Homo sapiens: one gene and its partners. The protein of the gene in region 2 purifies or fractionates together with the protein of the main gene of each other region. This does not show direct contact. Each region holds a gene or a part of one and is shown on either strand. Other genes may lie near its edges.

Region 1 (7,993 bases), on a different chromosome or scaffold from region 2:
AGAAGCCAGAGTTACTGCTGTAGCTGGACCTGGAAACCACTCCTCAGCTGGACCAGTCACTGTGTGTGGGGCCTTTAATGGGAGGGGAAGGGAAACTATGAAACACATCCTAATACCATGTAAGGGTGATGACTGTGATTAGAGACATTATTAGATGGCGGATACACAGAATCCTTAACTTTTTCCAGACCGTGACTTAAAAAAAAATTGTCATTGTTTCTTTTTGGCAATTACTTGCCATCAATACAGTTCAAACAGGCCCTAGCTGACTGGGATGGGCTGGTGCAGGACTTTTGGTTTCTGTGGGATGTCCTGGTGTAGTCCGTGTCATGTTTTTAGGCATTTCTCTCTATTCCCCTGGGATGAAAGGACAGGAATTTCAAGATATTTCACCTGCAATGAGTTCCTGATTTTATTTTCAAACAACGATGCACCATTATCTGAAAGCAGGCTAACTGTTGTGCACTTGCCAGCCTCGCTCTAATCCTTAAAGGCCACACACCACAGTCATTCTTAATCTGCTGCTGCAGCTACCAGTCACTCCATGATGGAGCATCAAAAGATGGATAATGTAGTTACTCTGCTCTGTTCCTTGCATGGGGTGGGTTAAACAGAAGTGAGGTCTGAGTAATGTACCAACATGTCGGATAGAAAGGTTCTTAACTCAGGGTTACTCATTTTTGGAAGGTGTAGAGACAGGAAATGTTAAAGCCTGCTTCTCCTGGGATTAAGGAGTTAGTGACTTTCAAATGCTCTGAAAAGAAAAAGAAGAGGAGAAGACAGTCATATCTGCAGGCATTCTTCAACAGGCATTCAGAAAGATTATGGTGGGGTAGTTTGTCTAAATGAAATCTTTGTTTTACACGTTGTAGAATGGAAATCTCAGGAATATCCTGAATTCAAATCATTTTTCTTCTGCAGGCAATTTTAAATTAGCTTCTAAAAACATATATGAATTGCAGGCAACTGCTGCAGAAAAAAAAGAGTGAACACAGATGAGGCATATTCAACTTTAAATTCCTTTCAGATCCAATGAAATGACCCCTAATGTTTGATCACATTTCCTTATCAAAACAATCCTGCAGTCTGAAGGATTTTTCCATGAGAAAGTGTCTGAGGACTGGAATCAAGAAGCTGCCCCCCGGGCCTCTCCTGTTTCTTCCCAATGCGTTGTCACCAAGATATTTTTAGTTCATGAAACTCAGGCTGTCCTTTCTCCCACTTATGGTCTTTGCCTCCCGTGCCCAGCAGGCCTCCTAGAAGCACACATGTGCTTGGCTGTGACTACTCAGCTCACTCTGTAGCTGTGTGTGCACGCCTTGTGTGTGTGTGTGTGTGTGTGTGTGTGCACACCTTGTGTGTGCACAGACCTTCCCGGATACCAGGAGTTGTAGACTGGCTGAAGAAGGGTGGGCTTCCATCCATGGGGTGATCCTTAGGTCTGTGCTGGTTTGGCTTGGTTCCCTGATAAGGCAGCTGAACTCAAGCCCTTTAGGAGGGCCAGGACTGACCGGAGCTCCCAGCCTGTGCCCCTCTCCTCGCACCCCACAGGCCGCACCCCACAGACTGAGGCTGCCTGGGGTCTTGGCAGCTCCCTCAGCAATGAGGGATACTTGCTCTCCGCTGCCTCATTGTTTCCCTGCAGTCAGGATGCCAGTGTTTTTTCCCTTTCCCCTTCCCAGAGTCAACAGGTCTCCCTCCCCGCTCTGAACTCTCTTCCTACTCTGAGCTGTCTGTCCAAACTCTTCCTGGCCTCCCAGCTTACCCTATGACACTCTTACCTTTCACCTATATTCATTCTTTCCCTTCTCTTCCAACTGCCCCTTCTCATACCCAGCACTACATACAAATTACAAGTAAATAAGTGTCTCTCCTACACCAATAAAAGGCAAATACAAAAAAATCCTTCAGCGTTTCCCCACTTTCCTTACTTCTCTTCCGTTCTCCTTCCTTCCTTTCTCTCCCTTCCTCTTCCTCTCTTGGTTTTTCCTTTCTACCCCTTCCTCTCCTTCACTCCGTGGCTGTGGCTGAATTAGGGATCACACATGTGCTTAGAGAAACCATCTTATCTGAAGAAACAAAAAAACAAAAACCAAAACAATGACAACGACAGAAAAAAAAAAAAAACATGGGCTGGTTTGAGGTTGTTCTCTAAATGTTTATTATAACTTCTAATGTGATGGAGTCAGTGTGTTCCCATTAGTCCTTCTCCTCCTCATTTAGTAGCTCAGAGGAGTCCCAGAGCAAACTTCCTCAAATCAGGTCGGTTCATACTGCACTGCCTTCAGCCTGATGTGAGTCTTACTGTGCTGGGTTTATGTCCAAGGGCCAGTAAATATTCCCTTCCTTCCAGGGCTCACCACTGTTTCAAATCCTCTGGCAAGCCCAGTGGAAGAACTTCTCTGTATGGGAAATTCAGCAAGTAAACTTGGAAGTATTTGTTCATTGGAGTTTGAATCTGAGCCAAACAGTTCACTCAAAACCAACCTTCCACTCAGCAAACCAGTGTTATGAAAGTTTGCATGCATTTGGGCAGGAAACAAAGGACATTAATGAGTTTAAAGATTTTTTTTTAAATCCATGACTTTTGGACATTTATTAAAAAGATTACTCTCTGGGGAATGAAGTAAGGCCTTGGGAATCTTGTAATTGAAAGTTTCTGATCCGAAGTAGATCTCAGGATCCTCCCAGCTGTAAATTTATAGATTTCTTTTTAATGTCCACCTGAAATATTCATGCTGTGTGTCTCTAGGACGCTTCAAACCTATTCCTGACTCAAAGAAAGCTTAAGAAAAAATCCAAGCAGTTGTGATCACCAAGGCCTGATTATGGAGGAGCTGTTAATATGGTTTATTAATTACTCAGGCTGCTCACTCCTGTCCTTCCTCTGTTCCTTGCTGTGCTATTTGTCTTCTTCTGGGGACATAACACCTTCATTAAATCCCATCCGTCCTTGCCTTAGAGTTGTCCCCTGGAAGATAGCTCCCCTCTAGATGCATCACCATTTATCATCACCCTTTGTTGGTGCTCTGTCAACCAGTTTTCAATTTATTTTGAATTCAGTTAATGATTAAAATTTAATGAGATCCAGTCAAATGCTTTTCTCAAATCAAGATGCCTCTGCAGCCTCATCTGTATCCTCTTGTGATGGCGTGAAGGAAAGCCATGGCAGATTTCCAGCCTGGTGATGCTGTACAGAACACAGGTGGCCTGCTTCCATGCCTCCTCAGCTTCAAGGTGAATGGCTCTGAAGCATATTTATTACAGAATCTCCTAGGGGTTATGTGGCTTCCCCATCCCCTTTCTTCCCTCCCAATAGCTGAACCAGTCAGTGCTCCCAACCGAGATGCAAGCGGTTAAGTGCACAGGATCTGGTGCCAAACCGCTTATATTTGAATCACAGCTCTGCTACTTAATAGCCATGTGACCTCGGAAAAGTTACTTACCTTCTCTATGCCTTGCTTTTCCTGTCTGTAAAATGAGTCTGACAATAGTACTTAGGAAATTAGAGTGGGTGTGAGGATTAAGTAAGTTAATATATCTATCACACTTGGAACAGCATTTCCCACGTAGTCACCATTCAATAAATATTAACAATGATTGCTAACAAAGAGTAAAGTTCCTTAAGTATGTCAGTTTCATTAGGTTTGTATTTTGGCTTATCAGTGTACAATCTATATCAACAGTAAACTACAACCCTAGAGCCAATGGTTACCATGACCTGTTTTTAGCACCAGCCTGTTGCTCAGAATGGTTTTTATATGTTTAAAGGGTGTCTTTTCTTAAAAAAAATAAAAATAAAAAAGGAGCAGAATATGAAACAGACACAGCATGTGGCCCATAAGGCTTAAACTATTTACTATCTGTCCCCTTTGCAGAAAAAGTTTGCCAACCCGTGATTTATATGGTTTAATGGAAAGAGCTTGGAGATCTAAAGGCTTGATTTGGCTTCACCCATCACTTGTTAAGTGACTATGGAAAAGCTTCTCAATGTGTCTAAGCCTCTGTAAAACAGGAATGGCAAAGTGGTAACACGTACCCTGCTTATGGCCTAGGCTTGTTTTAAGGACCAAACGAGATGATGTGTATCAAATGTGCCGGAAATGACTCATATATACACGTTTGTTAAAAAGATATGGTCTCTATACATTAGCTTCATAGAATAGTATTAGCACCTGGGTGTAAAACCAGGGAATACTGTTTTTAAAAAGAGAGCTCTGAAGCCAGATAATAACTGCAGTTGTCGTTGCGGTAAAAATAACAAAATGGCCATTGCTTTTTAAGAGCTTGATATGTGCCAGGCTCTACATTCAACACTTTATTTACATCTACTCTTTATCCTCACCACACCCCTATGGAGAAGTGTTGCTATTTTCCCTATTTTGCAGATGAGAAAAGTGAGGCCCAGAGACGTTAGGTAACTTTGTCAAGATCACAAATCTAATCATGCAGCTAGCCGGCACAGGGAGAATTTAACCCTAGGGAGTCTGAACCCAGAGCCTGTGCATTTAAGTATTGCATATGTTCCCACATCCTAGGAATATGTGTTGATTTAGGGTAAGCCCATCTGGAAGGCAGAAGCCACTGTTCACTGTGGATGTGGGCATGAAGTCTGTTCATGTGTGCCCTGGGAGAGACTTGCTTCCCACACAGGCCACGGTGGACTCTAACGGACCTGAAGAAAGGGAGGCAGGCATGATGGGAGGAAAAGCTTTTTGGTGAACTCTGAGATCAGAAAGGTAGCGCTGTGAAGACTAATAGGCTCTGTTTCAAAAAACTAGTAAGTTAAGGAAGATTGTGCTAAAAGAGGAAAAGATTGCTGGGAACAGACATGAGCAAACAGTTGGAGGCAGCTCAAGGGGCTTGACTGAGAGCTGTGTACAGAAAAAAAAATTAAAAAAGAGAGAGGGTGAAGCATGGGAAAATCTGTCACTGGGACACCAAGGGAGCATTGTCACATGGACAGCAAGGGAGCATTGTCACATGGACATCAGGGCTGCTGACATCTGGATGTGACATTATTCGCAAAACTAGGCAGCTCGGGGCAGAGTAGAGAAGCCCAGAGAAAGGTATCAGGCCCGAGGAGGCAAAAAGGAAGACAAAGCAAGGGACCTGGAGAGAGAAACTGACATATTTGAGGGAAGATGCCCATCAGATCCAAGAGCTAGAACCACAGCTCACAGTCCAAACGGTGATGAGAGTCCAGAGATTAAAAGCTACTGTCAGGCTGGGTGCAGTGGCTCATGCCTGTAATCTCAGCACTTTGGAAGGACGAGGCAGAAGGATTGCCTGAGCCCAGGAGTTCGAGACCAGCCTAGGCAACATGGCGAGACTCTGTCGCTACAAAAAAAAAAAAAAAAAAAAAATTAACCAGGTGTGGTGGTGCATGCCTGTGGTCCCAACAATATGGGAGGCTAAGGTGGGAGGAAGACCTGATCCCAGGAGGGCAAGGTAGTTGTATGTCCCTGGGAATCACCTCTGTACCCAGCTCATGCCCACCCATGCTTACCCCAGGCACATGTTCTCACCCTCTGCTGAAAGGTTTTTGATATTTGAAGAGATATGTTCACTGTCTCCTGGGCGGTGTCATGAGTTCCTCATTCGCATTGGTTCTTAATCTTTGTGAGCATCAGAATCACTAGTGGAGCCTTTCCTTTTCATTTTTTATCTTTTAAGTCAAAATAGATGCACTTGTTACAAAACTTAAATAGTATAAAATGTTCTGAAAAGCAAACCTCTTTCCTACCCCATTCCTAGCCATCCAATTCCCTTCCCAGAGGCAACCACTGTTCCTCATTTGAGATGGCAGATATACGACCTTATATCATACAAATGATGGCATACCCTACACACTGTGCTACTCTTGAATTTTTTTAACTTAATAAATCTTAGAGATAGTTCCATTTCAGTTCACACAGCCCTTCCTCATTCTTAAAGGATGTGGAGTGCTCATTGTACAGATATACTACAGTTTTAAAAATCAGAACCTTTAGACATGTGGGTTGTGTCTGGTCTTCGCTATTATAAACACTGCGGCGTTGCCTGTCTTCGTAGCCTCTTCATTTCATACAAGATATACATATCTCTGCAGGGGAAATTCTTAGAAGTGAAATTACTAGGTCAAAGGGCATAAGCTTTTAAAATTCTGATAGTTATTGCCAAATTGCACAGATCACATTTCCCTTGGCAAAGTATGAGAGAACCTGTTTACCTGTGAGACTTAAACAAAAATACACTAGTATTTTACATACAATAAACAAAAATACTCAGAGGCCCTGGGTGTGGGGCCTGGGCTCTGTATTGGGAGCCTCAGAGAGGGGTTCTGAGCCAGGAACTCTCCTGGGCTTCTTCGCCCTCCAGCCCCGCTCTCCCCCCAGGATTTGCTGATGAGCCTGAGATGACCCAGGGCACTGCCAGCATGGGGGCTCCCAGGGTCCTAGTTGGCAGGTCTCCTGTTCCCCTGAGGAGTCAGTGCTTGCTCCCTGGGTCATGGCTGGAAAACAGGGCTTTTCCACTTCAATCCAGGCACCGCCCTCTGGTAGAGACTGGAGCAAAGGTCATGCCAGAGTTACAAGCACGTAAATATGGAGAAAGCCTGGAAAAAAAAAGGAAAAACAGAAAAATGGGTCGGGTCAGAACAAGCAAGAACCAGGCTCACATGCACAGCTGTTCCATCCAGTTATATGTCCCCAGGACTCACCTCTGTCCCCAGTTCATGCCCACTCGTGCTTACCCAGGGTACATGCTCTCACCCTCTGCTGAATGGTTTTCTTTGTATTTTAAAAATACAATGGTGAGATACTGAGTGATTGCTTTTTAATGTTTAGTATTTTTACACTATGGACATTAAAGACAAAACAGATAAAACTGCCATCCTTGACATAACCCATTAATCTGTCTGTGGCCCCCTGATGTGGCATTTGTAATTGTTCTCTATGACTGCCTCAGGAGAGTTGGCAGGGTTGCCCACTTTCTGCCAGTTCAGACAGGGGTCTGGGGCTGGAGGGGGCCTGTGTGGTAGTGGCAGGCGTGCCCCACCCTTTTCAGTTCTAGGTGGAGCTCTGCAGAGGCACAAAGACCAGCAACTCCCTGCCTGGAATCTAAGAGCAGATGCTCCCATTACACTGGCTGATGGCATCACCTTTATTCTGCAAGTAAGGGTTGTGGTCAATCCTGCCCATGGGCAGGACCTTTGGGCATGGCCCAGACCTAACTTGGGTGCTTGACACATAGTGGGCACTTAATAAATGTTCTGGAGAGGAAAAAAAAAGAAGAGGGAAGGGTCACCCACGTGGCATAATTTTAAGAACTCTGAGGACCAGGCCCACCAGATACTCCTTGCTACCCAACATTGTTGTTGACAACATTCTCATTGTCACTGATCCGGCTACATGGACCTGTCTGTCCCCTCTCTGAAATAGGCATCAACTATTTATTCATTCAGTGAATCTTTATTGAGCACCTACTATGTGCCAGGTGCAGTTCTAGGTGTTGAGAATATAGCTGTAAACAGAACAGTCAAAAATCATGCCCCCAGGCCAGGCGTGGTGGCTCACTTATAATCCCAGCACTTTGGGAGGCTGAGGTGGGAGGACTGCTTGAGGTAAAGAGTTCAATACCAGTTTGGGTAGCATAGTGAGACCTCATCTCTACAAAAAAATTTTAAAAGTCAGGCACACCGACTGGCGCAGTGGCTCACACCTGTAATCCCAGCACTTTGGGAGGCCGAAGCGGGCGGATCACCTGAGGTCAGGAGTTTGAGACCAGTCTGGCCAACGTGGTGAAACTCTGTCTCTACTAAAAATACAAAAATTAGCCAGACGCAGTGGCGCACACCTGTAATCACAGCTACTCGGGAGGCTGAGGCATGAGAATCGCTTGAACCCGGGAGGCAGAGGTTGCAGTGAGCCGAGATTGTGCCACTGCACTCCAACCTGGGTGACAGAGCAAGACTCCGTCTCAGAAAAAACAGAAAAATTAGGCATGATGGCGT
Region 2 (6,874 bases):
TTTTAGAACAGCTGGCTGGTGTCTGGAGAGTCGGAGAATTGATGTGGGCGCCCCCCTCCCCACTAACATTGGTGTCAGAAGTACTGGGAATGTAGAAAGTTTTTCCTTGTTAGGTATCCAAAAAGATCTCCCACACCTGGATCCCATGGAAGGCAGCTGGGAGGGCAGGAGGTGGCTGGCTTCAGAGAGCCAAGGAGGTCTGGGAAGTCAGGAAATGGGTGTGTGGCTCAGCAGTCAGGGGCAGCGGCACCCTCTTCCCCAACTTCTTCAACCAAACACATGGTTGGGCCACAGCACCACATGGATGAAGGTGCCACCACCAGCCCTGAGAGTCACCGACATTCGTGCAGAGCTTCCCTGGTGTTGCACCAGGATGCAGGACCAGCGTCACGGACTCCAAGCCGGTGTGGAGTAGGAAAGCCCTGGGCAATCCGTCAGTAAGGTCCTTCCAGCCTGGGCTGGAGTCATATCCTCAGCCCCACTTTCTCCAACTCTTTCCTGGAAGCCCAGAGGTGCCACACACAGCTGCTGGCCACACACACTCACATAGTCCCCAGGGCCCTGGCTGAGGCTGGGGAGACCCCTATTGGCCACAATGTGGGGATGAAGTTCCCACCCTGCACAGTCACTGTAGCAACCACCCTGTGCTGAGAACCACACTCCAGGGACCAACATGCACTAGAAAAATGTCACACAGGAATACACACTCAGAGGGCACTCGAGAAACATTTATTGAGCACCTACTATGTGCCAGGCCCCAGGCAGGACACTTGGAAAACAAAGTCAATACAACCTGGTCCCTGCCCAGGAGCTCACAGTCTAGAAGGCCAAGCCATTAATCATAGAACAGCAAAGGGGCATTTGGCTTCACAATTTTACAACAAACTTTTACATACGTTTTCTCAAGTGTAAACACCCAGCAACACAGCCATGTTGTTTTAAAAGCACATTGGCATAAATGTAAACACAAGTCACAGGATTGAAAGGATGAGAGAAAACCATTTGCAGTATTTGTGCTTGCAGAACCAGATTTTTAGCATTATTTATTCCCTCCTATCAGGTAGGATACAAGTTTTGCCAATCTGTGGATAATGGTGTTTGAGACATGGGAGTTCCGTGGCCGGCCTGCCTGCCTGCCATCATGCAGTGGGGGAGCCACACTAGATACAAGGCATCCTGAAGCCTTGGCCACTGCCTTCTGTCCACCACACCTGTCTTTTAATGTCCCCTAGACAAAGACCCTGTATATTTCTAGGCTCCTCCTGAGCTTATCAGATGGGGAGAAGGGATCATGTCCCAGGAGCCCACCAAGTCGTGAGATCCCTCATACCTGGCTTGGCACATGGTGACACCCCATCAGGTGAGCACACAGCACACGCTGCCCAGGCCCAGACCCTGCCTGCCCGAGATGAACTTCCTGGTTAGTCTCAAAATCTGGCAGTGTTGGCCGGGCACAGTGGCTCACGCCTGTAATCCCAGCACTTTGCGAGGTCGAGGTGGGTGGATCACCTGAGGTCAGGAGTTTGAGACCAGCCTGGCCAACATGACGAAAACCCCATCTCTACCAAAAAATACAAAAATTAGCCAGGCATGGTGGTGCACGCCTGTAATCCCAGCTACTCGGGAGGCTGAGGCAGGAGAATCGCTTGAACCTGGGAAGCAGAGGTTGCAGTGAGCCAAGATCGCAGCCTGGGTGACAGAGCAAGACTCCAACTCAAAAAAAAAAAAAAAAATGTGCCAATGTCAGCGTCCTACAGGAATAGCTGCCCTCCAAGTCCCACCTGTGCCCCCACTTCTCCTATGTGCACATTTGTCAGCATGTGCAGAGGTATACAGTCCTGCTTACCACACCTGCCATGGGCTCTAAACAGGACAGTACAGCTGGGGTTTGAGAAGGGGCTGCCTGTGTGCTCCATCTCACCAAAGGGAAAACCACGCACAGATCTGGCCCCTGTTGGTTTAGTTTAGGAAGGTAAGGAATCCGGTGAAGAGACCAAAAGTGGCCTCCTCATGATCCAGGGAATAGGGGAAACCAGCAAGTGTTTGGGTTTAATTAAGCCAAGGGTTGGGGGGGATGAAGGTGGACAGCTGAGGGTGCAGGCCTGTAGGGCTGGAAAAGGCGGGGCTGAGTTTAGGACCCCTGTGCCCCTCACCATCATACGGAAAGGGAGGAGAGGCATCTTTCTACCTGCAAGCTGGTTACCGCCATTTCACTTTAGAAAGCTCAGGATAAGCCGGGCGTGGTGGCTCACGCCTGTAATCCCAGCACTTTGGGAGGCTGAGGCAGGTGGGTCGCCCGAGGTCAGGAGTTCGAGGCCAGCCTGACCATCATAGTGAAACTCTGTCTCTACTAAAAATACAAAAAATTAGCTGGGCATGGGCATGGTGGTGGGTGCCTGTAATCCCAGCTACTAGGGAGGCTGAGGCAGGAGAATCACTTGAACCCAGGAGGTGGAGGTTGCAGTGAGCCGAGATCGCGCCACTGCACTCCAGCCTGGGCAGCAAGAATGAAACTCTGTCTCAAAAAAAAAAAAAAAAAAAAAAAAAGAAGAAAAGAAAAAGCAAGCAAGCAAGCAAGCAAGCTCAGGCTAATTCCCAGCTCCCTGGTTGTGAGCACCCCTGGGCTTCTACAGTGACCTCTTTTGGGCAGAGGCCTACCAGGTGAGCCAGAAGGTACAATGTTAAAGAAAATTGTTTCTGACCCCCTTTCCAGAGCAGAGAGGAAGGGAGGGGGTGAGACGCCCACAGGTGACTGATAGCACAAGTCAGCCCTCGTTCCTGGGCTCCACAGAGGCCTGCCCTGGTGCTGTCCCACCTTCAGGAGAGGTGGCTCCCTGGCTCCCCCCAGGACCATCTTCCAACCCTCCTGCCCCTCAGGGTTGCTCTAGGTGGCCAGGTATCCTGCTAGCAAACCCTCTCCCCCAATGATGGCCCAGACGGAACTCTTAATAAAAAAAAATAATTTATTGTCAACAAAGGTGATATATACAACAGGAAAACAGATGTAAATGAGAACGGGAGTGAATGGGGTGCCCAGGCCCAGCTTCAGGCCTCTGCAGGGGTGGGACAGGAAGAGGTAATGGAGGCCTCCTGGTTTAGAAGCCTGAACAAGTGGGGAGGAGAGGTGTCCCCCGAGGTAGTGGGACTCAGTTCAAACCCCCTTATGACCACTCTTGTGTAAGGCACTGTGCCAAGGGAGAATGGTGGGGAGCAGGGGGAGGGTGGGAGGAGGTCATGGGGGACAAACAGAGGTGGGGGTCAGCGAAGGACTGGGGTAGGTGTTCTCCACAGGCCCAGTGCCCTACTGCACAACAGCCTCAGCCACCCTCGCCGACCTCAGGCCTGGCCAGGAACAGACACTTTCCAGTGCCCCGAAATAACAGTGGATGCTGCCCCAGCCCCCTCCTGCCCTGGCACCTGTTTCTACTCTCTCCACCAGGTGGGTGAGCCAGGCAGCTCTGAGTTATAAGCCACTGGGGGACGCTGCCTCATCCCTCCCTCCCTCCCCAGGAAAGCAAGAATTTACACTCCATTCCCTTTTTCCGGCTTCCCTGCCACAGTGGTGCTGGATTCTGACAGAACTGTGGGCCAGTCTGAGGTGTCACCTGCTCCCACACGCTTGGTGCCCTGGGGGTGCCTGGACCAGTCTTGCAGGAGGCTGACCGCTGGGGGCTCCTCCATCCGCACGCGGATAACCTGGAGATCCAGTGTCCCGCGGAGCCCCGGAGGGGGAGCTGGGCAGGGATGAGAGCAGAGAGCAGTCAGAGCCCCCCAGACACCCCACCACGAGGATGCCCCCTGGAAGCTCCGCAAACTGTACCCACATTTCCAGGGCTTTCATTATGTCCACAGCCCAGTGCCTGGCATGAGGGGAAGCCCAAGGATGGCAGGGAGCTCCACTCCTGGGTGATCGAGGACTGCTGCCAGCTAGAAAATGAGGCGCACAGCCTCCCTAGGGACAAGCCAGCTGAAGCCAGGCAGCCTTCCTCCTGTGTGTATTTTGGCACAGGGACGCCTGGTGCTCGTGCCTCTTCCTGTAACTCCTACCTGCAGCCAACTCCATTTTATCTCAAACTTACTGGGCATCCTAGCCTAACGGGTTCTGCCTGAGTGGGGCAGAGGTGATGGGGTGGGAACACCCAGAAGCAGTCTAAGGCATAGCTGTGCCCACCAAGGAGCTCATGAGGGACTACGTGGGGGACAGAAAAGACCCCTGGCGAACTTCCACCAGGCTCTTTATCTCCTGAGTGTCAACACCTACATCACCAAGACCAGGTGTCCACCTTACCAGTATGGAGAAGGCACTCATAATGGGCAAAGCTGGGCCTCGAGGCAGAGGAAAGAGGACTGAGGACTGCCGTGGCTGCGTGCAGCCATAAAAAACGAGCACGCAACAGGGACGTGTGCAAAGGTTACGTTACATTAGGGCTGGGCATGATGGCTCATGCCTGTAATCCCAGCACTTTGGGAGGCCAGGGTGAGCAGATCACTTGAGGTCAGGAGTTTGAGACCAGCCTGGCTAACATGGAGAACCCCTTTACTAAAATACAAAGAAATTAGGCAGGCATAGTGGTGCACCCCTCTAATCCCAGCTACTCAGGAGGCTGAGGCGGGAGAGTCGCGTGAACCTGGGAGGTGGAGGTTGCAGTGAGCCAAGATCACGCCACTGCACTCCAGCCTGGGCAATAGAGTGAGACTGTCTCAAAAAAAAAAAAAGTTACATTACATTGAAAGGCAAAAACAGAAGATGGTGATTTCAACTACTGCACTGTCTATATTGGGAAGGATTTATTTGTGTGTGTTCCTTTTCTACCCTGTTTTTAGAGACACGATTATTTAAAATGTGGCACAGAAAACAGGTACAATTTTGCTGTGCGATGTGCTGGAATTTAAAATGACTTAGTGGCTGCCACCCCATTTTTATCACCTACCAAATGCTATTCTGTGTTCCCAGAACACAGTTTGTCTCCCTGATAAACTATAGGCTCCCTGAAGGAACACTGAACCCCATTTGTTCATTAATTTGACAATAATTTATTGAGTACTATATGCCCAATGCCGTTTGGATTGCTAGGGGTACAGCGGTGAATGGAGCTCCCTAAGTGGCCTTCTGGGACTTCACATTCTATTTATCAGAGCTAATAAATAGGATAAACAAATAAAAAATGCAGTATGTTATATATGGACAGATGCAAAGTAGCAAAGTACACCAGGGAAAGGAGATAGGATAATAGGATAGCAGAAAGCTGACAGGGGACCACAGACACAGAGGGAGTGAGGAGCCAGTGAGGCAGACAGGGAGGGAACAGCATTTTGAGCAGAGGGAGGAGCAAATGTGGATGCCCTGGTGGAGCACGCTGGCTTCCCCAGGAACAGCAAGGCCAGTGCCTGTGCGGGGAGCGGGATGTGGGGGGAGAGGTCAGGAGCCTGTGGGGAGCTCACTAGTCACCATGAAGGCTCTGGCTTTTATCTGGAGTGCAACAGGAGCAGCACAGAAAGGCCATGAGTAGAGGAGTGACTGGATCTGACTTGTGTTCTCAGCAGGGACACTCTGGCTGCTACAGGAGAGCAGAGCATAGCGGGCAAAGCTCAGCAGCCAGGAGACCTGGCTTAGGTTTGTTACAGGAACCAGGCGAGAGCCGGCCCTGACTAGGGTAGCAGCAGTGGATGTGGTGACAGCAGTGTGAGCTCTGAACTTGTTTTGGAGGATCGGCTGCTGGACAGATGCTGGGCTGGAGAAAGAAGAGGATGACTGTGTGGGTGTGGTCACAGCAAACTGAAGCCTGGGGCTGCCTGTTCACTGGGAAAGGGAAGATTGTGGAGTCTAGGGGTAGGGTGCATTGGTGAGACTGGGGGTTCAGTTTCAATGTGGCGAGTTTGAGATTTTTTTTTTTTTTTGAGATGGAGTCTCGCTCTGTCGCCAGGCTGGAGTGCGGTGGCACAATGTTTGAGATCTTTTAGACACCCATGTAGAGACGCCACCTGGGCAACTGGAAAAGAGGATGGAACCAGGAAGGAGCAGCCAAGGTGGGCATTATGAGCACACACATGTCATTGAAAGCTGTGAACCTGGATGAGATCTCCCAGGGAGCGAGTACCGACACTGACCCACGGCTGCGGATACTTAAGCACGTACTCATTCACCAAACACATAAGCCGGGCCTACGCTGTGCCAGGCACTGTTCTGGTTACCGCAGATATTATAGTGCAGGACGCAAACACCCTAACCTGCAGGCCCTTACATTCTAGAAAGGGAAAGGCAGACAATGATACGACGTGTTCCAACTCTGGGAGCTGAGAGTGAGCGGCAAGAGAAACTGAGAAGGAACAGTTAGTGAGGGAAGAGGAACACCAGGCGAGCAGCTGCCTGAAAAGCCAAGGGAAGAAAGTTGTCTCCAGGAAGGAGTGAGTGATCAGCCCACCGTAACCACGAGATCATAAAGAGAAGGACCGGCCAGGTGCAGTGGCTCATGCCTGTAATCCCAGCACTTTGGGAGGCCGAGGTGGGCGGATCACCCGAGGTCAGGAGTTTGAGACTAGCCTGGCCAATAGGGTGAGACGCCATCTCTACTAATAATACAAAAAAATTAGCCAGGCGTGGTGGCGCACGCCTGTAATCCCAGCTACTCAGGAGGCTGAGGAAGGAGAATCGCTTGAACTTGGGAGGCGGAGGTTGCAGTGAGCCAAGATTGCACCACTGCACTCCAGCCTGGGCGACAAGAGCAAAACTCCATCTCCAAAAAAAAAAAAGAAAAAGAAAAACAGGCCAGGTGCAGTGGCTCACGCCTGTAATCCCAGCATTTTGGGAGGTTGAGGCGGGCAGATCACGAGGTCAGGAGATCGAGACCATCCTGGCTAACACAGTGAAACCCCG
Region 3 (7,613 bases), on a different chromosome or scaffold from region 2:
CCTGAGTCAGGAGAATCGCTTGAACCCAGGAGGTGGAGGTTGTGGTGAGCTAAGATTACGCCACTGCACTCCAGCCTGGGCCACAGAGCAAGACTCCATCTCCAAAAAAAAGAAAAAAAAAAAAAAGCCGGGCTTGGTGACTCACACCTGTAATCCCAGCACTTTGGGAGGCTGAGGCTGGGGGATCATGAGGTAAGGAGGTCGAGACCAGCCTGGCCAACATAGTGAAACCCCATCTCTACTAAAAATAAAAAAAATTAGCCAAGTGTGGTGGCACTCGCCTCTAGTCCTAGCTACTTGGGAGGCTGAGGCAGGAGAATTGCTTGAACCCGGGAGGCAGAGGTTGCAGTGAGCCGAGACCACACCATTGCACTCCAGCCTGGGTGACAGAGTGAGACTCCATCTCAGAAAAAAGAGCTGGGCACAGTGGCTCATGCCTGTAATCCCAGCACTTTGGGAGGCCAAGGCAGGTGGATCATCTGAGGTCAGGAGTTCGAGACCAGCCTGGCCAACATGGTGAAACCCCATCTCTACTAAAAATATAAAAATTAGCCAGGCGTGGTGGTGCATGCCTGTAATCCCAGCTACTCGGGAGGCTGAGGCAGGAGAATTGCTTGAGCCCAGGAGGCAGAGGTTGCAGTGATCCAAGATCATGCCACTGCACTTCATCCTGGGCGACACAGCAAGACTCCGTCTCCAAAAAAAAAAGAAAAAAAGAAAAAAAAAATCAGCCAGGCTTGGTGACAGGCACCTGTAGTCCTGGCTACGTGGGAGGCTGAGGCAGGAGAATCGCTGGAACCTGGGAGGTGGAGGTTGCCGTGAGCTGATTGCACCCCTGCACTCCAGCCTAGACGACAGAGTGAGACTCCGTCTCAAAGAAAAGAAAAAAGAAAAAGAAAATATAGCCTTGCTCTTATGTGTAGGTAACTTGACCAGCTGGCAGAATCTTCATCAGATTCTGTTACCTCTGGACAGAATACTAATAATAAAAAATCATAGCACTAAATAATCTCCTGAGTGCTTACTATGGACCCAGCCATTTATTGTCTCTTAACCTTCCAACAGTGCTCTCCTTTCATTACAACCCATTATGCTTTGTGTTGGCCTACTGGATTTCTTTCTGGTGTTAGCCATTAACCCATGAAGGATCTGGATAATGTGGATGTAGATGACTAGAGTTTCATGCTTTTCATGTTAAATGGTTGAAAACAGTGGGAAGAGGAAGGTTAGAGAGAACATGAGAAATATCCTTTAAGTATCTGAAGGGCTGATATGCTGTGGAGAGACCCTGGACTCATTCTGGGCAATTCCTTCAAGCTGTGAGGTCCATTATGGTAGGGAACTTGTCTATTTTGTTCTCCAGTACATTTCTAGCACTTAGCACAGTGTCTGGCAGATAGTGGGTGACAGGTACTTTCTTTTTTTTGAGATAGTGTCTCACTTGGTTGCCCAGGCTGGAATGCACTGATGCGATCTTAGCTCATGGCAGCCTCTGCCTCTCAGGTCAAGTGATTCTCCTGCCTCAGCCTCCCGGGTAGCTGGGACAACAGGCACGTGCTACAACACCCAGATAATTTTTTTATTTTCTGTAGAGATGAGGTTTCACCATGTTGCCCAGGCTGGTCTCCAACTCCAGGACTCAAGGGATCCACCCGCCTTGGCCTCTCAAAGTGCTGGGATTATAGGCGTGAACCACTGCTCCCGGCTCATACCTGTTATTGAGTGGAGGGATGAAGAAATGAACATGTTCTGCATTGCTCCAGACTACAAGAACTGGAACAATGGGCAGAAGGCATGGGAAGTCCTGTGTAGTGTATCGGGCTGACTTCCCAAGCCCTGAATTATCTGGCTCCATGACAGCTGAGGCCAGGGGACACTGGCTTTGTATTCTTGCATTGGCTAGAATTTTGGCCACACCGGGTGATTCTCCCTTCTTACTCTGAGATGCTGGGCCCCTGCCTTGCATTGACAGATGGAAACTATTTTTTTTTTTTTTTGAGATGGAGTCTCGCTCTGTTGCCCAGGCTGGAGTGCAGTGGTGCAATCTTGGCTCACTGCAAGCTCTGCCTCCCGGGTTCATGCCATTCTCCTGCCTCAGCCTCCTGAGTAGTTGGGACTACAGGTGTCCACCACCACGCCCGGCTAATTTTTTGTATTTTTAGTAGAGACAGGGTTTCACCGTGTTAGCCAGGATGGTCTCAATCTCCTGACCTTGTGATCCGCCCACCTCGGCCTCCCAAAGTGCTGGGATTACAGGTGTGAGCCACTGCGCCCGGCCGACAGATGGAAACTATTTACACAAAACCATTCCTTGCGGGCAGTCAGATGGGGTCTTAATGCTTATTTTTAAAAAGAGCCTTTTTCTGGTGTTAGGAACTACTTGTTGACTATTTTTCCTGCCTACCCAAGTAGTTCTCTAAATCTAAAATCCAGTGATAGCTTGCCTTATTTAAATGCTTGTTTTGGCTGGGAGCAGTGGCTCACCCCTGTAATCCCAGCACTTTGGGAGGCCGAGGTGGACGGATCACCTGAGGTCAGGAGTTTGAGACTAGCCTGGCCAACATGGTGAAACCCTGTCTCTACTAAAAATGCAAAAATTAGCCGGGTGTGGCGGCACGTGCCAGCTACTCTGGAGGCTGAGGCAGGAGCATCGCTTGAATCCGGGAGGTGGAGGTTGCAGTGAGCTGAGATCGCGCCACTGCACTCCAGCCTGGGTAACAGAGTGAGACTCTGTCTCAAAAGAAAAAAAAATGCTTGTTTGAAAAGATGCAAGTTTCCCTGCAAAAATAGGTGGGAAGTAGGCGCTAAGGCAGCACATTATCGTGTAGAGATTTTGGAGACACAGGCTTTGGAGCCACACCTAAGTGCAGTCTTGCTGTGCCACTTACAAGCTATAGGGTCTCGGACAAGTCTCTTTCCTTCTCTATTCTTGTTTGCTCATTTGTAAGAAGAAAGGGGAGGCCAGGCACCAGGCCATGGCTCCCGCCTGTAATCCCAGCACTCTGGGAGGCCGAGGTGGGTGGATCACGAGGTCAGGAGTTCAAGACCAGCCTGGCCAAGATGGTGAAACACCGTCTCTACTAAAAATACAAAAAATTAGCCAGACCCGGTGGCAGGTGCCTGTAATCCCAGCTACTCGGGAGGCTGAGGCAGAGAATTGCTTGAACCTGGGAGTCAAGATCAAGCCACTGCACTCCAGGCTGGGCAACAGAGCGGAAAAAAAAAGAATAAGAAAGGGGATAGGCAGAAGTAATAGAAATTTCATAGGGCTGTTATGAAAATTAAGTGAGCAAAATTTGTTGTTTAGCCAGCACTTACAAAATCGCTAAGGAACTGTATTTTTTTTTTTTTTTTTTTTTTGAGACGGAGCTTCGCTCTTGTTGCCCAGGCTGGAGTGCAATGGTGTGATCTCAGCTCAGCGCAACCTCCGCCTCCCAGGTTCAAGCGATTCTCATGCCTCAGCCTCCTGAGTAGCTGGGATTACAGGCATGCACCACCATGCCTGGCTAATTTTGTATTTTTAGTAGAGACGGGGTTTCTCCATGTTGGTCAGGCTGGTCTCGAACTCCCGACCTCAGGTGATCCGCCCGCCTCGGCCTCCCAAAGTGCTGGGATTACAGGCGTGAGCCACCGTGCCCGGCCCAGGAACTGTATTTAAAGTACACACACACACACACACACACACACACAGAGACAGAGAGAGAGAGAGAGAGAAACTGAGCTAATTCGAGGCAGTTAATAGTGAATGGTTGAAGGTGACTGTTATTATAAAGGTTGTATCACATTTCTGTGTGATCCAAAGACTGCCTACATCAGAATCGCCTGAGATTCTGGGAATCACTGAGCCCCTCCCTGCCTTCCTCCCTGGACTACCCAATCATAATGTCAGAGTTCCCCAAATAATTCTTATGTGCACTAAACCTCTCAGAGCTCTTGGTGAATGACTTTCAGTGATTGGTGTGCAAACTACAGTAGATAGATAAGTTTGAAAGCACATCTTAGCCCATGCTGCGCCAAAGCTCTTTCTTTCTCTTGGCAGGTGACATGAAATGGCAGAAGCTAAATCCCACTGGGGCTGCTCCAGCAGGCTGTGCTGCCCACTCAGCTGTGGCCATGGGAAAACATGTGTACATCTTTGGTGGAATGACTCCTGCAGGAGCACTGGACACAATGTACCAGTATCACACAGGTGAGCAGGTGTCCATGGGGGATCTTTAAACAAATCTAAACATTCTTTGAAACGTGATGCGGTGGCTCACGCCTGTAATCCCAGCACTTTGGGAGGCCGAGGCAGGCAGATCACGAGGTCAGGAGATCGAGACCATCCTGACCAACATGGTGAAACCCCATCTCTACTAAAATACAAAAAATTAGCCAGGCGTGGTGGCGGGCGCCTGTAGTCCCAGCTACTCGGGAGGCTGAGGCAGGGGAATTGCTTGAACCCAGGAGGCAGAGAGGTTGCAGTGAGCTGAGATCACACCACTGCACTCCAGCCTGGTGACAGAGCGAGACTCTGTCTCAAAAAAAAAAAAAAAAGAAAGAAAGAAAAAAGTGATGCAGTGCTTCCAATTTGGTTCCTCTATATCTAAATCCAAAAGAATGAAAACTCTGTAGGGGATGACATCAGGAAAGCAGCAATGCTGCCATAAGGTTTTTTTCCTTTTACTCCTGTTTGTTAGGACTCGGCTGCTACAGTAAATCACTGAGCATTTCTAGAAATTTCATTACTTTTTAAATTTTATTCAGATTTTGGCTTTCACTATCTGGAAATTGTTTTTTTTTTTTTTTTTTTTTTTGTCTGAGATGGAGTCTCACTCTGTCGCCCAGGCTGTAGTGCGGTGACGTGATCTTGGCTCACTGCAAGTTCCACCTCCTGGGTTCACGCCATTCTCCTGCCTCAGCCTCCCGAGTAGCTGGGACTACAGGTGCCCGCCACCATGCCCAGCTAATTTTTTTTTTGTATTTTTGGTAGAGACGGGGTTTCACCGTGTTAGCCAGGATGGTCTCCATCTCCTGACCTCGTGATCCACCCGCTTCGGCCTCCCAAAGTGCTGGGATTACAGGCGTGAGCCACCGTGCCCGGCCTATCTGGAAATTTCTTAACATGAAGCCTTTTCCCTCCCCAACATAGAAGAGCAGCATTGGACCTTGCTTAAATTTGATACTCTTCTACCCCCTGGACGATTGGACCATTCCATGTGTATCATTCCATGGCCAGTGACGTGTGCTTCTGAGAAAGAAGATTCCAACTCTCTCACTCTGAACCATGAAGCTGAGAAAGAGGATTCAGCTGACAAAGTAATGAGCCACAGTGGTGACTCACATGAGGAAAGCCAGACTGCTACACTGCTCTGTTTGGTGTTTGGTGGGATGAATACAGAAGGGGAAATCTATGACGATTGTATTGTGACTGTAGTGGACTAATAAAACCCACATTTTTATTACCTGTCAGTTACTTTCAGAATAGTTAAGTAAAACATTAGCTGTTTTATACCTCCAAAATATCTTCTGCATTATATATCTGTTTTTCTCCTACTTTGGTAGGTGAAGAAACTAATGCAAATAATTCTTATGTGCACTAAACCTTGCTATATTGCCTCTCAGAGCTCTTGGGAATGACTTTCAGTGACTGGTTTGCAAACTGTGGTAGATAGATAAGTTTTGCCCAATGCAAAAACCTCCACTGCATTAACATAAAAGGCTTTGGGCCAGGCTTGGTGGCTCACGCCTGTAATCCCAACACTTTGGGAGGCTGAGGAGGTGGATCACCTGAGGTCGGGAGTTCAAAACCAGCCTTACTACCATGAAGAAACTCCGTCTCTACTAAAAACACAAAATTAGCCGGGTGTGCTGGCCCATGCCTGTAATCCCAGATACTCAGGAGGCTGAGACAGGAGAATCGCTTGAACCCGGGAGGCGGAGGTTGCGGTGAGCTGAGATCACACCATTGCACTCCAGCCTGGGTGACAAGAACGAAACTCTGTCTCAAAAAAAAAAAAAATATATATATATATACATATATACACACATATATATGTATACATATATAGTATATTTATATGTATACATATATATGTATACATATTTATATATACATGTATTTATATATGTATACATAAACACATATATATGTATACATATATATATATATAAAAGGTTTTGCCAACAATACAAACCTAGGTAGGTGTGATTTGTGTATTAAATGCTAATCACAAAGTTGCAATATGGTTAGGGTTAAAAAAGAAGTTGCAGAATTATAATTGGTAAACAACAAACTATAGACATCAGACACATAGTTGAAGTCTATCTTTTTAATATTCAGTAACAGCTCCTCAGAAAGAGTTACAGACTAGGTGGTCCACGGTAGTGAGAGCCTTTGAGGTAAGGGAAGACTAGCCCTAGTTGCTAACTACCATTTAACCCTATTGCCCCAGGGTACACAGCACTGTAGGTCATCTTTAATGGCTGTATTGGGCTTGGCCTGAGACCAGTATTCTGCTCAGGGTCTGCCCAAATGCTTTTCGGGCAGTGCAGCTGAGGCCTAGGTCTAATTAAGAGTTTGGTGTTGGGATCCAGTTCTACTAGCCCTAGAGAATTAACCTTTCAGCCAGTTGCCCATCTATAAAATACCTATCCTTGGGCAGTATTGGATTCTTTTTTTTTTTTTTGAGGTGGAGTCTCACTCTTGTCGCCAGGCTGGAGTGCCGGGCTGGAGTACAGTGGTGTGATCTCGGCTCACTGCAACCTCTGCCTCCCGGGTTCGAGTGATTCTCCTGCCTCAGCCTTCAGCTTGCACTACCACGCCCAGCTAATTTTTGTATTTTCAGTAGAGATGGAGTTTCACCATGTTGGCAAAGATGGTCTCTATCTCTTGACCTTGTGATCCACCCGCCTTGGCCTCCCAAAGTGCTAGGATTACAATATTGGATTTTATGTTAGCACCAGCCTGTCCTTTATTGATCATACCATTTACCTGGACTCTTTTCTTCAGGAACACAATCTAAGTAATCCTAAACCAGTTTTGACACAAACCATTGCCTTTAACAACCCATTCATAGTGAGGGGATTTAGTGTAGTTTCAATGTCACCATCCAAGATCCCACCCCAGTACCACTAATGAGAAATTTCAGGGATGGAGATTCTGACACAGCTAGGGTTCACAATATACCTTTACATCCTAAAGTTACAAATGAAATCCAAGTGTATAAAGTTAATACCAGTGATCACTCACTCCCCATCATTTCTCAGAGAATCCAAGCAGCTATAAAAGCATCATTAGTAATAATTTTAAAAAAAGCCACCAGAAAGGCAGTTTTAGAAAGATAAGGGGAAATAGGAAACCAAGTATGTTCAAGAAAACCCCACTCTTGGGCACTGTGAAATGCCCCTTGCCTGAGTAAAGATGTGGATTAACTTCTCTCCCCTTTTCTTAGATTAATGCAAAAGCCGAGCATGGTGGTAACAAGCCTGTGGTCTCAATTAGCTGGGAGACTGAGGTGGAAGGATCACTTGGGCCCAGGAGGGTTAAAAAAAAAAAAAAAAATCCCTGGAAGCATTAAATAGAAGTGTTTCCTTATCCCAACATACCAAATACTCCCTCCCCTCACCCCACA
Region 4 (7,993 bases), on a different chromosome or scaffold from region 2:
ACAGGGATGCCCTCTCTCACCACTCCTATTCAACATAGTGTTGGAAGTTCTGGCCAGGGCAATCAGGCAGGAGAAAAAAATAAAGGGTATTCAATTAGGAAAAAAGGAAGTCAAATTATCCCTGTTTGCAGGTGACATGATTTTATATTTAGAAAACCCCATCGTCTCAGCCCAAAATCTCCTTAAGCTGATAAGCAACTTCAGCAAAGTCTCAGGATACAAAATCAGTGTGCAAATATCACAAGCATTCTTACACACCAATAACAGAGAGCCAAATCATGAGTGAACTCCCATTCACAATTGCTTCAAAGAGAATAAAATACCTAGTAATCCATCTTGCAAGGGATGTAAAGGACCTCTTCAAGGAGAACTACAAACCACTGCTCAAGGAAATAAAAGAGGATACAAACAAATGGAAGAACATTCCATGCTCATGGATAGGAAGAATCAATAACGTGAAAATGGCCATACTGCCCAAGGTAATTTATAGATTCAATGCCATCCCCATCAAGCTACCAATGACTTTCTTCACAGAATTGGAAAAAACTACTTTAAAGTTCATATGGAACCAAAAAAGAGCCTGCATTGCCAAGTCAATCCTAAGCCAAAAGAACAAAGCTGGAGGCATCAAGCTACCTGACTTCAAACTATACTACAAGGCTACAGTAACCAAAACAGCATGGTACTGGTACCAAAACAGAGATATAGACCAGTGGAACAGAACAGAGCCCTCAGAAATAATACCATACATCTACAACCATCCGATCTTTAACAAACCTGACAAAAACAAGAAATGGGGAAAGGATTCCCTATTTAATAAATGGTGCTGGGAAAACTGGCTAGCCATATGTAGAAAGCTGAAACTGGATCCCTTCGTTACACCTTATACAAAAATTAATTCAAGATGGATTAAAGACTTAAATGTTAGACCTAAAACCATAAAAACCCTAGAAGAAAACCTAGGCAGTACCATTCAGGACACAGGCATGAGCAAGGACTTCATGTCTAAAACTCCAAAAGCAATGGCAACAAAAGCCAAAATTAACAAATGGGATCTAATTAAACTAAAGAGCTTCTGCACAGCAAAAGAAACTACCATCAGAGTGAACAGGCAACCTACAAAATGGGAGAAAATTTTTGCAATCTACTCATCTGACAAAGGGCTAATATCCAGAATCTACAAAGAACTCAAATTTACAAGAAAATAAAAACAATCCCATCAAAAAGTAGGTGAAGGATATGAACAGACACTTCTCAAAAGAAGACATTTATGCAGCCAACAGACACATGAATAAATGCTCATCATTACTGGCCATCAGAGAAATGCAAATCAAAACCACAATGAGATACCATCTCACACCAGTTAGAATGGCAATCATTCAAAAGTCAGGAAACAACAGGTGCTGGAGAGGATGTGGAGAGATAGGAACACTTTTACACTGTTGGTGGGACTGTAAACTAGTTCAACCATTGTGGAAGACAGTGTGGCGATTCCTCAAGGATCTAGAACTAGAAATACCATTTGACCCAGCCATCCCATTACTGGGTATATACCCAAAGGATTATAAATCAGGCTGCTGTAAAGGCGCATGCACACATATGTTTATTGCGGCACTATTCACAATAGCAAAGACTTGGAACCAACCCAAATGTTCATCAAAGATAGACTGGATTAAGAAAATGTGGCACATATACACCATGGAATACTATGCAGCCATAAAAAAGGATGAGTTCATGTCCTTTTTAGGGACATGGATGAAGCTGGAAACCATCATTCTCAGCAAACTATTGCAAGAACAAAAAACCAAACACCACATGTTGTCACTCATAGGTGGGAATTGAACAATGAGAACACTTGGACACAGGAAGGGGAACATCACACACCGGGGCCTGTTGTGGGGTGGGGGGAGGGGGGAGGGAAAGCATTAGGAGATATACCCAATGTAAATGACGAGTAAACGGGTGCAGCACACCAACATGGCACATGTATACATATGTAACAAACCTGCATGTTGTGCACATGTACCCTAGAACTTACAGTATAAAAAAAGAAATGTTGCAAGACCACATATTTTTTTCATTTCTTTCTGGGACAGGATTAGAGGATCTGGAAGTCTCTGAAGCCCTTGGGGGATGGGGGTGGGAAAGTCAGGGGAGGGAGAGAGACAGTGCCAGGCTGGGGGTAGTAGAGCTTCGCGGTGGGGGACAGAGCCCAGGTCAGCCTGCCACCACCTTCAGATCCTGGCTTGCATTTACCGTCTGCGCAACTTTAGGCAAGTTATCAAACTTCTCTGTCCCTCAGTTTCCTCCCAAGGATAATAACAGTGCCTACCACATCAAGTGAATTAAAACACTAGAGCGTTGAGAACAGTGCCTGCACATGGGGGTGCTCTATTAATGTTAGCTGCTTGCCAAGCACTCTGTGTGACCTTTGGCAATTCATTGGCTTTCTGTCTTTAATTTCCACAAGATGGATACATTTAAAAATTAAAAAGCAACCCAAAAACTTAGCTAGGCATGGTGGCTCTTGCCTGTAGTTCCAGCTACACGGGCAGCTGAGTAGGAGGATCTCTTGGGCTCAAGAGTTCGAGGCTGCGGTGAGCTATGATCACGCCACTGCACTTCAGCCTGGGTGACACGGCAAGACCCTGCCAGGCAGTGTAGAAGAGGAAAACCTTCCTGAATTCAAAGTTAGGCCCCCCCTCCGCTGGCTCAGGTAGTTCAGACCATGAACAATCATTGATACCTTGTAGGCGAACTCCAGCTAGGCAGTCAGCTCCATGGGAAAGAAGACCTCTACTCCCAGCAGGGCCTGAGGTATAGTAGGAGCTCAATGAATTCTTGTTGAATGAATAAATCAATTTAGTACTGTGAGCTGGATGGAGATGCATGATAATAGATTTCCTCATCCAACATTCCCAAATATTTGGGGATTTTCTACTTGTTCTTTTATTAATGGTTTATAGCTGAATTCTGTTGTAGTCAAACAACATATTCTGCATAATATCATTGTATCTTAATATCTTAATATGTTTGTATCATTATATGTTCCATGTGTCCCTGGAGCATAGCTGCCTTCTGCAGTTGCTGAGTACAGTTTATAGAAACTTGTGAATTAGGTTAAGTTTGTTAATTATGTCATTCACATCTTCAACCCCAGGATTTTTCTGTGTCTTCTATCCGTTACTGACAGAGGTGTGTAAAAATCTCCCACTCTGATTATGAATTTGTCTATTTTTTCCTTTTAGTTCTATCAATATTTCTTTTATATATATTGAAGCTATGCACGTACGTTTAGAAGAGTTACATTATCCTGGTGGATTGACTTTCATTATCGTAAACTGTCCCTTTTTGTCTCTGGTAATGTTTCTTGTGTTAAGGTCAGCTTGATCGTACAAGTTTCCCTCTGGTTAATGTACGCATGGTATATCTGTTTCCATCCTTTTACATTAAGCCTCTGTGTCTCTTCTAAGAAATATAAAGCTGGATTGGGCTGGGCGTGGTGGCTCACACCTGTAATCCCAGCACTTTGGGAGGCTGAGGCGGATGGATCACTTGAGGTCAGGGGTTTGAGACCAGCCTGGCCAACATGGTGAAACCCCATCTCTACTCAAAATACAAAAATTGGCCAGGCGTGGTGGTACATGCCTGGAATCCCAGCTACTCGAGGGGCTAAGGCAGGAGAATCGCTTGAACCCAGGAGGCAGTGGTTGCAGTGAGCTGAGATCGCGCCACTGCACACTCCAGCCTGGGCAACAGAGCAAGACTCCATCTCAAAAAAAAAAAAGAAAAAGAAATGTAAAGCTGAATTGTTTTGTTATATTCGTTCTGATGATCTTTGTCTTTTAATTGGAGTATTTATTTTATCTAATGTAATTACTGATATATTGGAGTTTAAACCCACCATCTAATATTTTTTCTATTTGTAACAATTGTTTTATGTTACTTTTTATTTGTTTTATTGCTTCAATTTTGGATTAATCAAGTATTTTTTAATTCTACCATTTCTCCCCCAAACCCCCTTATTAACCTGTTAGTTGTACTTTTCTTTCAGTATATGGTTCTTACAATGATTCCTATAAAGATTACAACATGCATTTATTAGACTTGCTAAAGTCTAATAGACAATAGTACTTTTACCACTTCCCAGACAACACAAGAACCTCAAACCACTTGAGCTCCATTTAATGCCTTCCTGCCTTTCGTGCTGCGCTTGCCATGCATTTTTTTTTTTTTTTTTTTTTTTTTTTTTTTTTTGAGACAGACTCTCACTCTTTCGCCCAGGCTGGAGTGCAGTGGCGTGACCTCGGCTCACTGCAACCTCCACCTCCTGGGTTCACGCCATTCTCCTGCCTCAGCCTCCCGAGTAGCTGGGACTACAGGTGCCCGCCACCATGCCCGGCTAATTTTTTGTATTTTTAGTAGAGACGGGGTTTCACCGTGTTAGCCGGGATGGGCTTGATCTCCTGACCTTGTGATCCGCCCGCCTCAGCCTCCCAAAGTGCTGGGATTACAGGCGTGAGCCACTGCACCCAGCCAGTTGCCATGCATTTTAATCATACATGTATTTTAAACCCCACAGGACATTCTTCCTGTTTTACACACTCGATCTTCATTGAGATTTACCTACATCATTTCCTACTTCATACTCTTCATTCCTTCCTACGCCTCCTTACTGACATCTGGGATGATTTTTCCTTTTGCCTGAAGAATTCCCTGTAGTATTTCCGTCTTGTGGGTATTCTGGTGACAGACTCGCTCCTCTTTTGTTTATCTGGGATGTCCTTATTTTACCTTCGTTCTCTTCACTGGGCACAGATTCTAGGCAGACTTATTTTTTTCCGCCCTTTGAAAATGTTGCGCTGTTGAAGTCTTGTCTCCTTATTTGTGTTGAGGGGACCAGCTGTTAGTCTTTCTGCTGCTCTTTCTAAGGTAACTCAGCTCCTCTACCCTGTGTTTAAGATTTTTCTTTCTATCTTGTCTTCTCTGCAGTTGGATTTCGATGTGCCCAGATGTGGTTTTCCTTGTAAACTATACTGTGTGGGCTTGATGTCTTTTGTCATTCTGGAAAATTCTAGGCCATTATTTCTTCCATTATTTCCTCTGCACATCCTTTCTCTCCTCTTCTTTGGGATTCCATTTATGGGAATGTCAGACCTTCCTATGCCCTGGCTTCTAGAGTGCAGCTCTTCAGGAATGCATCTGAGAGCCTGGAGCTGTTTAACAGGTCCCTTTGTCCTTGGCAGGTTCTGAACTCCCGGTCTCCCCAGTCCCTGGAGGCTGCCTGCAGCTTTGCTTAGCTTCTCAGCCTGTTGATCACTGCCGTGGAATTGGCGAGTATCTTCCGGGGGAAAGCAGAGACAAAAGTGAGCCTCACCTCAATGCCCTTCCCATCTCTCTGGATTCTTGGTTCCTTCAGTCCTTGGTGCCTCGGTAGCTTTCTCGTGTCTTCGAACATATGTTTTTAATATTTTACCTTCCTTTTCTAGTTGTTCTTGGCAGGTAGCTTTATCTACTGCAAGGTAGCCTGATACATCCAGAGGCAGATGTGTTGCTGAGCAGAAATGACAAAGAGGTGGTTTCTGTCCCTTGGGCCTGAGGGTCCGGTGGCAGAGCCAGACATGACAACAATGTAAAGCACCAGCAAAATGTGATGTCAAAGGGAAGCAGAAATACATTCAATCTGATAGGAGGACCTAGGAAGGTCTCTGTGAAGAACAGGAAGGATTGCACCAGGTGCCATTTGGAGGGGAGGGGAGGGGATGGAGGCGCGTTGTTCTAGGTGTCAAAAGCTGAAGCTGGTATAGGCTGATATGATGGGATGTGTGCCATGGGCAGGGCTGGGGTGAGAGAAGGGAGACACCGTCGTGGGAACCGAAGCAGGGAAGGTAGGCACGTGCCACACATAAAGGCTTTTGTATCCAAGCTGAACCAGGACTTTTTATATGGGATGGCACATTGGGAGTGACCCATTCTGGCTTTGCTTGCAGTAACTGTGCAACTCTGGCAAAATCTCTAACCCTCTCTGGTTCTTGATTTTGTTGTAAAATAAGAATCCTAATAATACCTGCCTCTTCTACTCCCCAAGGTTCTTGTGAGGCATAGGTAAGCTTGAGGATGCAGATGTGCTTTGATGGGAATGATGAGTGGCCAGGACCCTGATTCCCTTCAGAGCCACACTACTAGGGGGTCAGGCTGTGCGTTGGTCCGTTGGTCAGGAGCTATCACAGGAACCCTCCATCACTTTCTGGCCTTGTTTGTTAGTCACAGGATGAGCATGGCTGGCTCTCCGGTGACATCAGAAAGCTTTCCAAAATCCTCAGTTCTGACTGTCCCCCAGGCTCTAACATCTCCACCCCAGCATCCTCTTCGGGGCACTGAGCACTGCTGGTCACCCAACAGACATGGAACTGCCTCACTCCAAGGCAGATCATCCCTCCATGGGCAGCTCTGGACAGCTCTGACTACAGGAAAGTTAGCCAGTCCTTCCTCAAAGGTAGTGTGCCATGACCAGAAGAATATGATTAGCCTACTCCTCTGCATAGGGTTAAAATAAAATACCTTATGCCCCCACCTAAGCTTCCACCTGCTCATCCTGGTTTGGGGCCCTGCATGTTTCTCCACAAGACACACGTGTGCTCCTTTTAAAATCGTCTCCTCTTTTCTCTGAATTACGGGAGGACCAAGATACACGAGGTCTCTTGCTACATGATTTCACTCGGGAATTCTTAGAGGTAGGCTCCACCAGATACGATGACCAGGACCTTGAGGATTTTAAAACTCATTTAGCATTGCAGCCCTCAAAGCTGACGGGAAAATTATAATTCATCTAGCAAATGTTCCTGTAGTGTTTTGGGGTGCCATTCATTTAATGGAGGGTGGGTGTGTTGAACATCCTGCCCTCACCCCTTCAGACCCGCTCCTTCTCCACCGGCCCCCATGTTCCAGGAGGCTGTCCCACACGGGCTCCCTCAATGGGCTCAGCTCCCTTGCCAGTGGCTTCGAGTTGAAGGGGGCTGGGTTTGCCTAATAGGAGGCACCAGAATGATTCAAAGACGGGAGGAAAGGGAGTCAGGTATTTATTCTCCCTCCCATGTCCCCGCCGTTGCCATGGGTTGGCTCTGAGACCCTCCAGTGAGGGCCACAGCTCCTAAGAGACAGCTCCCTCTGCCAGTCTCCAGTTCTCACCCCCGCAGGCTCCCTTCAAGCCTAGGGTGGTCACAGCCCCCTCTGAGTCGCCAGCCCTAGGGTGTGACACCGGCCTTTGTTAGTTCTGCAGAACTCTGCCGGCATGTCCGTAGTCTTAAAAAACTCTCCTTAAATTAAGTTGGAGTGTGTTCTGTTCCCTGCCAGGAACTCTACTGGAAAAAGCATTCTAGAGAGATGACAAGGCAGTAGGTAAAGGAGGTGGGACCTCCCAGCCCTGCATGGTGGAAATGTAGGAGTGGGGCTGGATTGGCGTCGAGAATGGACGAGCTTTCCATATTAAGCCAAGGGGTATGAAATCGCTGGTTCTCTATGTAGGTCTCCGTAGCCCCACGTTCCCATCCTAACGCATCTCTCCTCTCTTCCAGAAAGCTCCTGCTGCTTCTGTACCCCGCCTGTCCCTCCCAGCTGCGCAGGGCCCCTTCGTGGGATCATCAGCCCGAAGACAGGGATGGAGAGGCCTCTGTGCTCCCACCTCTGCAGCTGCCTGGCTATGCTGGCCCTCCTGTCCCCCCTGAGCCTGGCACAGTATGACAGCTGGCCCCATTACCCCGAGTACTTCCAGCAACCGGCTCCTGAGTATCACCAGCCCCAGGCCCCCGCCAACGTGGCCAAGATTCAGCTGCGCCTGGCTGGGCAGAAGAGGAAGCACAGCGAGGGCCGGGTGGAGGTGTACTATGATGGCCAGTGGGGCACCGTGTGCGATGACGACTTCTCCATCCACGCTGCCCACGTCGTCTGCCGGGAGCTGGGCTACGTGGAGGCCAAGTCCTGGACTGCCAGCTCC

Evidence for each region.
Region 1: the proteins of SPINDOC (region 2) and TRAF3IP2 purify together in Homo sapiens (affinity purification with mass spectrometry; one large-scale study listed by BioGRID and IntAct). This does not show direct contact.
Region 3: the proteins of SPINDOC (region 2) and RABEPK purify together in Homo sapiens (affinity purification with mass spectrometry; one large-scale study listed by BioGRID and IntAct). This does not show direct contact.
Region 4: the proteins of SPINDOC (region 2) and LOXL2 purify together in Homo sapiens (co-immunoprecipitation; one study listed by IntAct). This does not show direct contact.

What each region holds. Positions count from the first base shown.
Region 1 is NC_000006.12:111,596,440-111,604,432, reverse strand, and holds part of TRAF3IP2 (E3 ubiquitin ligase TRAF3IP2), read left to right. Parts: intron 1-2,137; exon of another isoform or gene 2,138-3,218; coding exon of another isoform or gene 3,219-3,237; exon of another isoform or gene 3,238-6,595; intron 6,596-7,993. UniProt on the Homo sapiens protein: E3 ubiquitin ligase that catalyzes 'Lys-63'-linked polyubiquitination of target protein, enhancing protein-protein interaction and cell signaling. Transfers ubiquitin from E2 ubiquitin-conjugating enzyme UBE2V1-UBE2N to substrate protein.
Region 2 is NC_000011.10:63,823,788-63,830,661, reverse strand, and holds the end of SPINDOC (spindlin interactor and repressor of chromatin-binding protein), read right to left. Parts: exon of another isoform or gene 5,015-6,874; intron 3,735-5,014; coding exon 3,523-3,734; coding exon of another isoform or gene 3,489-3,522; 3' UTR 2,946-3,488; downstream 1-2,945. UniProt on the Homo sapiens protein: Chromatin protein that stabilizes SPIN1 and enhances its association with histone H3 trimethylated at both 'Lys-4' and 'Lys-9' (H3K4me3K9me3).
Region 3 is NC_000009.12:125,228,557-125,236,169, forward strand, and holds the end of RABEPK (rab9 effector protein with kelch motifs), read left to right. Parts: intron 1-4,039; coding exon 4,040-4,189; intron 4,190-5,131; coding exon 5,132-5,424; 3' UTR 5,425-5,605; downstream 5,606-7,613. UniProt on the Homo sapiens protein: Rab9 effector required for endosome to trans-Golgi network (TGN) transport.
Region 4 is NC_000008.11:23,368,016-23,376,008, reverse strand, and holds part of LOXL2 (lysyl oxidase homolog 2 precursor), read left to right. Parts: intron 1-7,574; 5' UTR 7,575-7,657; coding exon 7,658-7,993. UniProt on the Homo sapiens protein: Mediates the post-translational oxidative deamination of lysine residues on target proteins leading to the formation of deaminated lysine (allysine).